Linked DNA regions of Homo sapiens: region 2 is linked to region 1. A link means that fine-mapping ties the variant in region 1 to the expression of a gene that starts in the linked region. Tissue or cell type: testis. Region 1 holds a variant in brackets; the other region holds the start of a gene. All regions are shown on one strand. Distances are from middle to middle.

Region 1 (5,151 bases):
AAAACCTAAAAATATATTTCTAACTTTCCCAATGCTTTTCTGTGTAAAAACTGGCCATAAAGAAATTATCTGACCTACCTTGTTTGACAGTCATAAGAACCCCCCTCCATTCCAGAGAGGTCACCCAGAAGGAATGAATGCAAGCTTAGAGAGGCCAAGAAGAATCTAGATAGGCAGGCCCTGCTGAGTTTCCCCCACTCAGTCTATTAGCATTAGATCACATCCTTTTTGTCAACCATGTTTCTACATGGCTGTCCATACTTTGTTGAACCTAAGCATAAAAATGGATACTTTAAAAATATGGACACTTTTCCCTGTATCTTTAGGTCTTCGTTCTGAAGGGACCTATGTACACATGTTTCTCCAATTAATCTGGCTTTTGTGAGCTGATTTCTCAATGAGCCTTCAGAAGGCAAAGGGGAAGTTTCCTTGGCCCCCACAGAGACATTTACATATGTTCCAGGCATCCTTTCAACTTAGTGATAAACTGGATTCTAATGGATCTCTCCTAGTCCCACAGTGTAAGAGAATCATAAGGTCTGTGCTGATTTCCTAAAATGAAAACATGCTAAAAGACAGATAGGTAGGTAAAATCATAATAGCAGAAGTACTTGGATTAGAGGAGGCAGGGTACCAAGGACCACGGTTTGAAAATCACCTCCTAATACTAGCATTATCCAACTGATAGCTTTCTATGGTATGTCAGCTGACATCCTTCCCCAACCTTTTAGGAGCTGTATGAATAATAAATATTTGCAGGGTGAAGACAAGCTATACAGGTGGAGAGCCATCAATGCTGGGTGTCCATCTGCGAGTACATGAGGTAGGGAGGAAAGTAGCAGAGGTCAGCACTGGGGCTGTTTCAGGCAGCCCATATTCTCTGTGTAACACGGCCTGCATGCCACACCTTCCTCTGTCAAGTATATCTTTTTATTAAGAAAGAAACAGAAAACAAGCCCATACATATACGGTCAACAAGAGTGCCCAAATCATTCAATGGTGGAAAAATCGTCTCTTCAACAAATTGTGGTTGGACAACTGGATATCCACATGCAAAAGAATGAAGTTGGACCACTTTCTCACACCATTTACAAATACTAACTCAAAATGGGTCAGGGATCTAAAACTATAAATCTCAGAAAGAAACCTAAGTGTAAATCGTTATGGCCTCAGACTAGGTAATGGTTTCTCAAATAGGACATCAAATGTACATGCAGCCAAAGAAAAAATGGGTAAATTAGACTTCATCAAAATTTAAAACTTTTGTGCTTAAAAGGACACTATTAAGAAAGTGAAGAGACAACCCCACACTGGAAGACAATATCTGCAAATTATATATCTGGTAAGTATTCAGAATATATAAAGAACGCTTACACTTTAACAATAAAAAGACAGGCAACCTAATTTATAGATAGGTAAAGGATTTGAATAGGTATTTTTCCAAAGAAGACATACAATGGTCAGTAATATGCTCAACATTAGTCATTAAGAATAAAACAGGCCAGGTGTGGTGTCTTATGCCTGTAATCCTAGCAATTTGGGAGGCTGAGACAGGCGGATTGCCTGAGCTCAGGAGTTCAAGACCAGCCTAGCCAACATGGTGAACCCTGTCTTTACTGAAAATACAAAAAATTAGCTGGGTATGGTGGCATGCGCCTGTAATCACAGCTACTCGGGAGGCTGAAGTGGGAGAATCACTTGGGCCTGGGAGGCGGAAGTTGCAGTGAGCCGAGATAGTGCCACTGCACTGCAGCCTGGGCAATGAAGTGAGTCTCCAAAAAACAAAAGCACAAGAAACCACTTCACTCCCCACTAGGATGACTAGAGTTAAAAAGATGGACAATAACAAAGGTTGACAAGAATGTGGAAAACTTGGAACCCTCATACGTTGCTGGTGGAAATGTAAAATGCTGCAGCTGCTGTGGAAAACAATTTAGCAGTTCTTCAAAAAGGTAACTGTGGAGTTATCCTATGGCTGGGCACTTCCACTCCCAGGCATATACCCAAGGCCACACGATAACTTGCACGTGAATATTCATAGCAGCATTATTCATAATAGCTAAAAAGTGGAAACAACCCATGTCCATAAACAGAGGAATGGATAAACAAAATGATATATCCAAACCATGGAATATTACTTGGCAATTAAAATGAAGGAAGAACTGATCCACATGAACACATGGAAGGCCACTGAACTGCACAATGTAAAATGGCTATGTTATGTTCTATGAATTTTACCTCAGTAAAAAATAAAGAAAACAAAATAAAAAGCAAGGAAGGAGACAGGGCTCTCCTGATCTTTCAAACCAAGCCCAAATATTGTCTTCCATATTTCAATAAGCACCCTAGCAGGAAAAAGAATCAATGTGAAGAACCTGTTATTTGACTTGAATTCAATCATTCTAAGAAAAGTAGCAACTTAAAAGGACAAGTTAAACCCGAGTAGGCAGGGAAGGGTTAAGAAAAAGCTAACTCAGCAGGCCTGCGATGCTCAAACCTTGCATATTCCAGAGAAAGGCCTGCCTCAAGGACTGACCCTTGGAGGCTCCTGGGAGGTAACCTCTGGGTCCTTGGAATACTGTCCTGATAAGAGTGTTTTTGTATGTCTGAGAACATAG[A/C]CCACCCAGTATTCAGGGTGAATGCCTGTTTTTGCTGGAGGGTAGAGGAGGTTGGGTTGGGAGAAACTAGAGGTCAGTCACACAGGTGCTGCATGCTTCTATGACTGGCCCCAGTAAAAACTCTGGACACCAAGGCTCTGGCATGCTTCCCTGGTGGGGAAGCATGTATCATCACACATTGTTGCTGGGAGAATTAAGCACATCCCTGTGCAACTCCACTGGGAGGGGATCCCTAGAATCCTGTGCCTGATTTCTCCTGGACTTGGCTCCATATGCCTTCTCCTTTTGCTAATTTTTATTTGTATCCTTTCACTGTAATAAACCATAAGTGTGAGTATGAAAGCATTTTTTGTTTGTTTTTGAGATGGAGTCTAGCTCTGTCGCCCAGGCTGGAGAGTGCAGTGGTGCGATCTCAGCTCACTGCAACCTCCACCTCCCAGGTTCAAGCAATTCTCTGCCTCAGCCTCCCAAGTAGCTGGGATTACAGGTGCCCCCCACCATGCCTGGCTAATTTTTGTATTTTTAGTAGAGACTGGTTTCACCATGTTGGCCAGGCTGGTCTTGAACTCCTGTCCTCATGATCTACCTGCCTCAGCCTCCCAAAGTGCTGGAATTACAGGCGTGAGCCACCGTGCCTGGCCTGAATGGGTTTTTAAGTACTGTGATTTCTTTTAGCAAATCATCAAGGCTGAGGATGATCTTGAGGGCCCTTGACACACTTAGGTCTTAAAAATTCAGTATGCTGGCACATCCAATGTACTTAACATACACATCAATCACACAGATGTAGAAACTGGGTATAATACCAAGTTACATGTGGGAAGACGGTGACACAGAGGTCACACAGCCACCGCCATAACTATGGCTACATGACAACCTAACTTCCCATCATGGAGGACCTGGGCATATTTACTGAGCCAGCCTTAACACGTGGCTAGTGAGGAGGTGTTCAGCCACCAACAGGCCAGAAAAGTTGGGGTGTCAGTCAAGAAGAGCAACTTTCACAGGCCAGAGCTCCGAAGAATCCCCAAGAACAAGGAAGGCAAATTTGTCCCAAAGCCTGGAAGGAAAGTGTTTTCCCCAAGAGTATGGCTTGAGGGAGGACTGCAGAGCAAGACCTGGAGAGAGGACAAGGCAGAAAATTCTGGGATGGTGCCTGAATATTCTCCTAGACTGGGACATGAGGCCAATTAAAAAATTTGAGAAATTTATGCTTGTACTTCAAACTGGTATTTCTAAAGAATGCTCTGTGAAGGAGAAGTGCAACAAGGATATTAATACATGTTTCACATATCATACAGGGGTCTATAATATGTTTGGCAAACACAAGGTTAAGCAATTTTATGTTTTGGGGTTGTTTTGAACTGCAGGACTTCTCAGAACCTTTAAAATGATACTCTGCACTATGCATTGTCAAGATGGTAAGATTATATGCAGCACTCCTGACTTTATTTGGCCACAGAATTCTCTTTCAAGCAGGATTTCAGAGATGTATGGCTCTAACAGACACCAGGGTTGAGAAAATTGCTGAACTAGTGGACTAGACACCCATACTTTATAAAACACAAATGCTTCCTTTCCAAACCCTTTTTTCATTGGTGCTGCTTTGTTTACCTTAATTTCTCAGTAAAGGTAACTGAGAAGCAGAGAGTGTACTGAAATGAGCACAGGCTTTGAAGAAAGATAAATCTGGGTGTGACCTCTGTTATTATGAGGATGAAAATGAGATAAAATAGTTTAGTAAGATACTGGCCATAAGAGAAGGCATCAAAAAATATATAATACCATTCCCTTTTTTTTTTTTTTTTTTTTTTTTTTTTTTTGAGGCAAGAGTCTTGCTCTTATCACCCAGGCTGGAGTGCAATGGCACAATCTTGGCTCACTGCAACTTCTGCCTCCCACGTTCAAGTGATTCTCCTGCCTCAGCCTCCCGAGTAGCTGGGATTACAGGTGCCCACCACCACGCCCGGCTGATTTTTGCATTTTTAGTAGAGAAGAGGTTTCGCCATGTTGGCCAGGCTGGTCTTGAACTCCTGACCTCGTGATCTGCCCACCTCAGCCTCACAAAGTGCTGGGATTACAGACATGAACCACTGCGCCTGGCCCGTCTCTCATCTTAATGCCTTTAAGCTCTTTACAATCGTTTGAGGGAAAAAGTTATCTTCACACTTCCTCCAGTAATAAAGGGAAAGCTGCATAGGATGGTGGTGGTGACTGGCCAACTCCAGGTCCCAGAAAATCTGGAAGGCTGGAGATTCCAGTGAGTGGGAACTCGAGAAGGATAGATTTGGAGTGGGCTATAAGGGGAGGCCTGTCCCAGCAGGGCAGGCCCCTTGGTTAGTGACACATGTGAGTTTCATTCTACTATTAAGAACAAACAGCTTTCCCTCTACTCATCCATTTCTCCTGGACAGCATCAGTCCCCATCCGGAATAACCTTTCTAGGAAGGGTGATAAGAGCTACCACATCTTAGTGCATCTTAGGTGCTGGGCAGTTTACAATAACAATCTCATTTATCCTCCCAGCAACTTG
Region 2 (5,151 bases), 190 kb after region 1:
GTAATTTGGACATGGTTGAAGGTGGGGGCAGTGGGAATGGAGACAGGTAAATAATTCCTCAGATATCACAAAAGAATGTGGAAGAGATTTTGCGATGAATGAGCTATAAATGTGGGGGACAGAATGGGAGTGTTGGGAACATTTAAACATTGAGACTCCCAGCAATTAGGATAAAAGTGGTACCATGGAGAGAAATGTGGGGGATGGAGAAGACGGCAATACACAGCCTCTGTGTAGGATAACTGATTGCAATCTCCACAAGTTTTTCGAGGCAAAAACAAAAACAAACTCCAAGTCAAAAATCTCCCCACCCCTGATCTTCCTCCCAAACTCTGGGCTGTATTTTTCTTTCGCTAACAGCCAGTAAGAAATATTTCTTTATGGCATAGGAGACTAAAAAGAAGGTAATGCCAAGCTGGTGCCCCGCCCAGTGCTGGGCACAGAGGAGATCACATGAGTTCCACTGGCCAGCCTCCCCACAAGAAACCAACCCAGTTGCTTATTCAGAAGGGGCTCCAGTATCCTGATCACCCAAACTCATTTCCCAGGCCCAGACCTCTGGGAAATCCCTGCTCCAGCCCTGCAGAGATTTATAGGAAAGTCCCAGGACGCCCATCTGCTTGCTTCCTCACATTAATTTCAGGGCTAGGATTTTGTTTTCTAAAGGAATTCAACTATGATGCCAACAAAAATCTATAGGAATTGAAGAGTTCCGTATTTTAAGTCACATTTTTAAAATGTTTGCTTCTTTGTATATTGAGACCCAGTAAGACCCTAGTAAGCCCAGTTACTCCATCACCTCCAACAATATTAATCAAGTAGAAGACACGCGGATTTTAAAAGCTGTGTGATCCTTGAAAAATCTTCAGACTGTCAGGGGTCCTGGGTGCCTCCAACTGTGAAAGGAGGGTTGGACAAGGCGATTCCTTAGATCTCTCTCGGGTATCTATTTCTCTAATTCCAAATTCCAACAGGCATCCAATGATTGCTACCCACGTCCAAGCTTTAGACTCATAGCCCGAAAAGGGCGAAGCGCAGCGTGGTAGAGATCGCAAAGGAGACAGGAAGAGAAGCAAGCATGCACTTTTAGTAAGACGGCAAAGGAGGCTGGGAGGTACGGTGCTGGGTGCGGACTGCTTAAAAAACTTACTAGACCACAAATTCCAGATACTTAGGTGGGCCCGAGAACGCCCTAAAATCCCCTTCCCAAGTGAGGGCTGATGTTATTTCAAATAAAAAGAAAACTTAACTTCCAGATCTGTAGAGCTCCAAGGTGAGCTCGCTGTGCAAAAGCTACTTCTGTAAGTGCGCCAAGGGGCCGCAGGTACTTAGGCTGCACTTGAGGAAGTGTCCAGAGTTGGCGGAAACAACCCATCCACTCGGGCTCCAGGCGCTCGCTGGGTTGCAGCAACTAAACTGAGACAGACAGACACACAGATCCGAGGCCCCAGGCCAGGACTCAAGGAGCGCTGACCGAGACTTGCCCGGCTCTCGGGCCCCAGGCGGGAGGGAGGCGAGGCTGAGGTGGGGGGCGCACGGGCTGGGTGTGCACTCGCCGGTCCCCTCCGACCCGACCCGGGGAGCACGGGGCCCCGACCCGGGGACGACTGAGGTGGATTGTCCCTAGAGTTTAAGACTGTCCCTAGAGTCGAGGGTGGAGGGATGAGCGCCGGCGCCAGCACAGAGCAAGACTCCCAGCAAGGAAGAGAACCAGAGAAGGAGGCGCAGCCGTCCGCACGGACCAGGCGCGCGCTGGCTCCCCGAGCCCGGAGCGGCGCAGCCCGCGGCGCCCCGGACACACCCACTGGGTAGCCCGCGCCAGCCCGCCCCGCCGGCCAGAGAGCGGGAGCCGGAGCCTGGGCAGCGGAAGCCGGGTCGGGGCCGCGCGGGCGGCGCGCAGGGGACGCGGGGCGCGCGGCTCTGCTCACCTGGCGGTCCGCGTCCCGGAGCGACCGGCGGCCGCCTCGCCTCGCCTCGCCCCCGCGTGGTTCCCGGCGCCGGGCAGCCCCGAGCGCCGCCGCATGGACGGCCGCCACCGCCGCCCAGCCGCCCCGCGCCCGCCCTGCACGGGCTCCCGCTGTGCCCCGATTCCGCGTCGGGCTGCGCGGGCGGCCAGCGGTTCAGGCGCGCGCGGAGAGCTCTGGCTCAGAGTTTGCGATCCGAGAGCGGGATCCGCGCTCCCTCGGTCCTTCCTCCCTCCCCTCTTGCGGCCTCCCGCTGTCATCTGGAGCCGCTCCTGCCGCCCCCTGGCGGCGACCGCGGGAAGGGCCGGCCCCCATCCGCACCCCTGACCCCGGAGGTCAACAACGGGATGGTCCCTGGGTCCCAGGGGAAGAGACATCACCCAGTAGGAGGGAGTACGGTCTAGACAGAGGCCACGAGGGCGGGAGGGGGCGAGAGTGGAGAGTGGCCCAGCTGGCCAGGGTCGTCTAAGTGAGAGGAAAAGGGAGAGGGCGGTTGAGACCAGGCCCTGAATTCCGCGTTCATCTTATCCTGAGGTCTGTGGGGACCTGTTGAAGGACTGGGGCAGGGGACGGACGCGGGCATCCTTCCATTTGGAACAGCCATTCCGGCAGCATCAGGATGGGGCGGAGGCAAAGCGGGGAGTGGGCGAGGCAAGTGGTGCTGTAAACCTGTGCGAGAAGGGGGCGGTGACTCTAAGGGCAGGAAGGAGCCCTGGTCACACACACACTCCCACGCAAGGTAGGACGCGCTGGGCTCCTTCTGAGGCCAAGGGGAAAGGACAAGAGCCCTCCAAATTCCAACGGGGGTTAGACAGCATGGGGAGGAGACACACACACCCTGACGGCCAGAGCCGTTCGGGATTCTTTCTTGTCTTATTCAGAGTAATATTTTGTTGGGGAAAAAAAAGCCTGCTGCAAAAAAATAATAATTCTTCTCATTAGTAATGATAAAAATCAAACTTTGATCCCTTCATTTTACGAATTGGGAAATTATTGCCCCCAAAAGGGCATGACCAAAGTGACGCGTTTAGTTAATGGAGGGAAAATTGCTAGGGCCCCGTTTCTTGAGTCCTAATTCAGAGCCAAATTCTTTACATTCGAGCCAAGGTGTTCAGAGCTGGGAAGGCAGGAAATAGAGTGACTGTGAGGAACTGTCTCTTCTTTCCCCAGAGCAGGGAGGGGGTGACAAATATTTGAAGAGGCTGTCCAGATACAGGCGTTTCCCTAAATTTCAGTCAGCCTGTTTGTTTATCGCTGCCTCTAAAGCTTGCCTGCAGGGGTTGTTTTGAAAGTGCAGGTATACCGAGAGGACAATGAAGGAGGTGGCAGAATGCAAGCTCCCTGCCCCAGAGCCAGGCAGCACCAGGGCTGGGTGCAGAGCGCTTCGTGGGAGCAGAAGGGAGCTCCCAGGGAAGATTGTCCTCCAGAAAAAAAAAAAAATTAACAAAAGGGAAAGAGGCTACTCAAGAGATTAGGCCAAAGAAAGAAACACCATTTTGAGCACCGACTACTGGCCCGGAGCCTGGCAGAGCCAGTTCTGATTGATTCAAGAGCTGGTTCCAATGGGATGAAATAATTCCACACTTGATCAAACAGATTTTGATGGGAGGCACCTGGTGTAAATGGGATTAGATTAATTCTGAGTGTCACGAGTCTCATGGGTCCAAATTAAGTCGATCTAACAGCTCTAGTAAATACTGGCCAGTTTAAACCATTTAGAACTGATTTAAAAAAAAAAACCTGCGCAACTTTAGAATGTACTTAATGTCACTGAATTATACACTTAAAAATGGTTAAAATGGAAATTTTTATGTTATGTACATTTTACCATAATTTTAAAAAAGCAAAACTAATAAGATTTGTTCAAACAAGATTGATTTATTCATTCATTCGAGACAGGTATTCAGTGCCGAGTGTGGCCTTGGTGCTAGGATTCAAAGAGGAAAGGAAGAAAACTTTCCATTCTAAAAGAAACTCCACGTGAGGCGAAGAAGATGAAATATAGTCAGAAAACCATACCAGTAGGTGGTAGGTAAATGCAGAAGTATTTAAGAGCTCATACAGGAGTACCTGCCTCAGGACAGGGAATCTGAGATGCTCTGCAGAGCTGGATCTTAAAGAACGGAGTGAGTTCATCACATAATGTCTGGGGCGAACAGGGCTCAGGAGCAAAGGATGTGGTTTTGTTTGTTATTTTTTAATTTTGAAATAATTTTAGACAAGTTTCACAAATAGTACAAAGAATCCCCTTATATCCCCCACCCTCTTCCTCTAATGTTAACATCCGACATAACCAAAGTATGATTATTAGTGAGCAAACTTGATTCGACAGACCTAGGCTGGCTCCTTAGAAGTGATTCCAGTCCATTTTCAACCTTGGTCAAATTGTTTTGACCATATTTTGCTTATATGTCACAAGAAAGTCTCTTTCTTTAAAGTCAAGATAATACTTGTTTTATTTGTTTATTTATTTTGAGAGAGTGTCTTGCTCTGTCACCCAGGCTGGGGTGCAGTGGCATGATTGCAGCTCACTGCAGGCTCCACCTCCTGGGCTCAAGCAATCCTCTCACTGCGGCCTCCCAGGTAGCTGAGACTACAGGCGTGCGCCACCACATTTGACTAATTTTTTTTTCATTTTTTATTTTTAGTAGAAAGGAGGTATTGCTGTGTTGCCCAGGCTGGTCTCAAACTCCTGAGCTCAAGTGATCCTCCGTTCTTGGCCTCCCAAAGTGCTGAGATTACAGGCGTGAGCCACAGAGACCAGCCTATACTCATTTTAAACAAAGAGATATTTACATTATGTGTAAGCATCAGTGAATATTAAGTATGCTAAGACAGCAAGTTTTAATCTTTCAGTCCTGTTATATTTCTGCTTTTATCCAAATGTGTCTGTCACGTATGAATCAGAAGAGCAGAATGTGGTCCTTGCATATAAAATAGCTTACTGACCCTCACCGAAAGAGAGAGCCAAGAATATGTGCTTCAGATCACAGTCAAAGGCTAGCCTGTGCTTACCTAGGCTGGGGGCCTGCCTGGCATGTCAGTGTCAGCTATACACAGCATCTTGGAGGGTGGGTCACCCCTTTGCATATCTGATGTGGTGAGCTACTCACTACCTCATAAAATAGCCACATTGTTCTTAGAGGCTCTTTGTTAGAAATTCCCTTTTAATTTTGACTTGAAACCT

Which allele goes with the higher level. Positions count from the first base shown, and alleles are read on the strand shown. Sizes are in standard deviations (SD) of each study's normalised expression.
In carriers of allele C in region 1, the expression in testis of the gene that starts at base 2,156 in region 2 tends to be lower than with A alone (small effect, 0.34 SD a copy in GTEx).

What was found. PIP is the estimated chance that this variant, and not a neighbour inherited with it, causes the effect.
Region 2: it holds the start of THSD4, and the variant in region 1 is fine-mapped to the expression of THSD4 in testis (GTEx, PIP 0.97).

Annotation. Positions count from the first base shown.
Region 1 is chr15:71,305,598-71,310,748 of GRCh38, reverse strand. The region is part of intron 6 of THSD4 (thrombospondin type 1 domain containing 4); the gene reads right to left. LOC124903520 (a long non-coding RNA gene) reads left to right here and starts at 4,416. Exons shown (of 2, transcript XR_007064700.1): 1 at 4,416-5,151. The variant A/C (reference allele first, on the strand shown) is at 2,619.
Region 2 is chr15:71,112,476-71,117,626 of GRCh38, reverse strand. It overlaps THSD4 (thrombospondin type 1 domain containing 4), which reads right to left and starts at 2,156. Exons shown (of 18, transcript NM_024817.3): 1 at 1,929-2,156. CT62 (cancer/testis associated 62) reads left to right here and starts at 2,123. Exons shown (of 4, transcript NR_168260.1): 1 at 2,123-2,703; 2 at 3,864-3,996. RefSeq lists silencers at 1,763-1,852, 2,003-2,142, 2,173-2,232, 2,079-2,256, 2,293-2,342.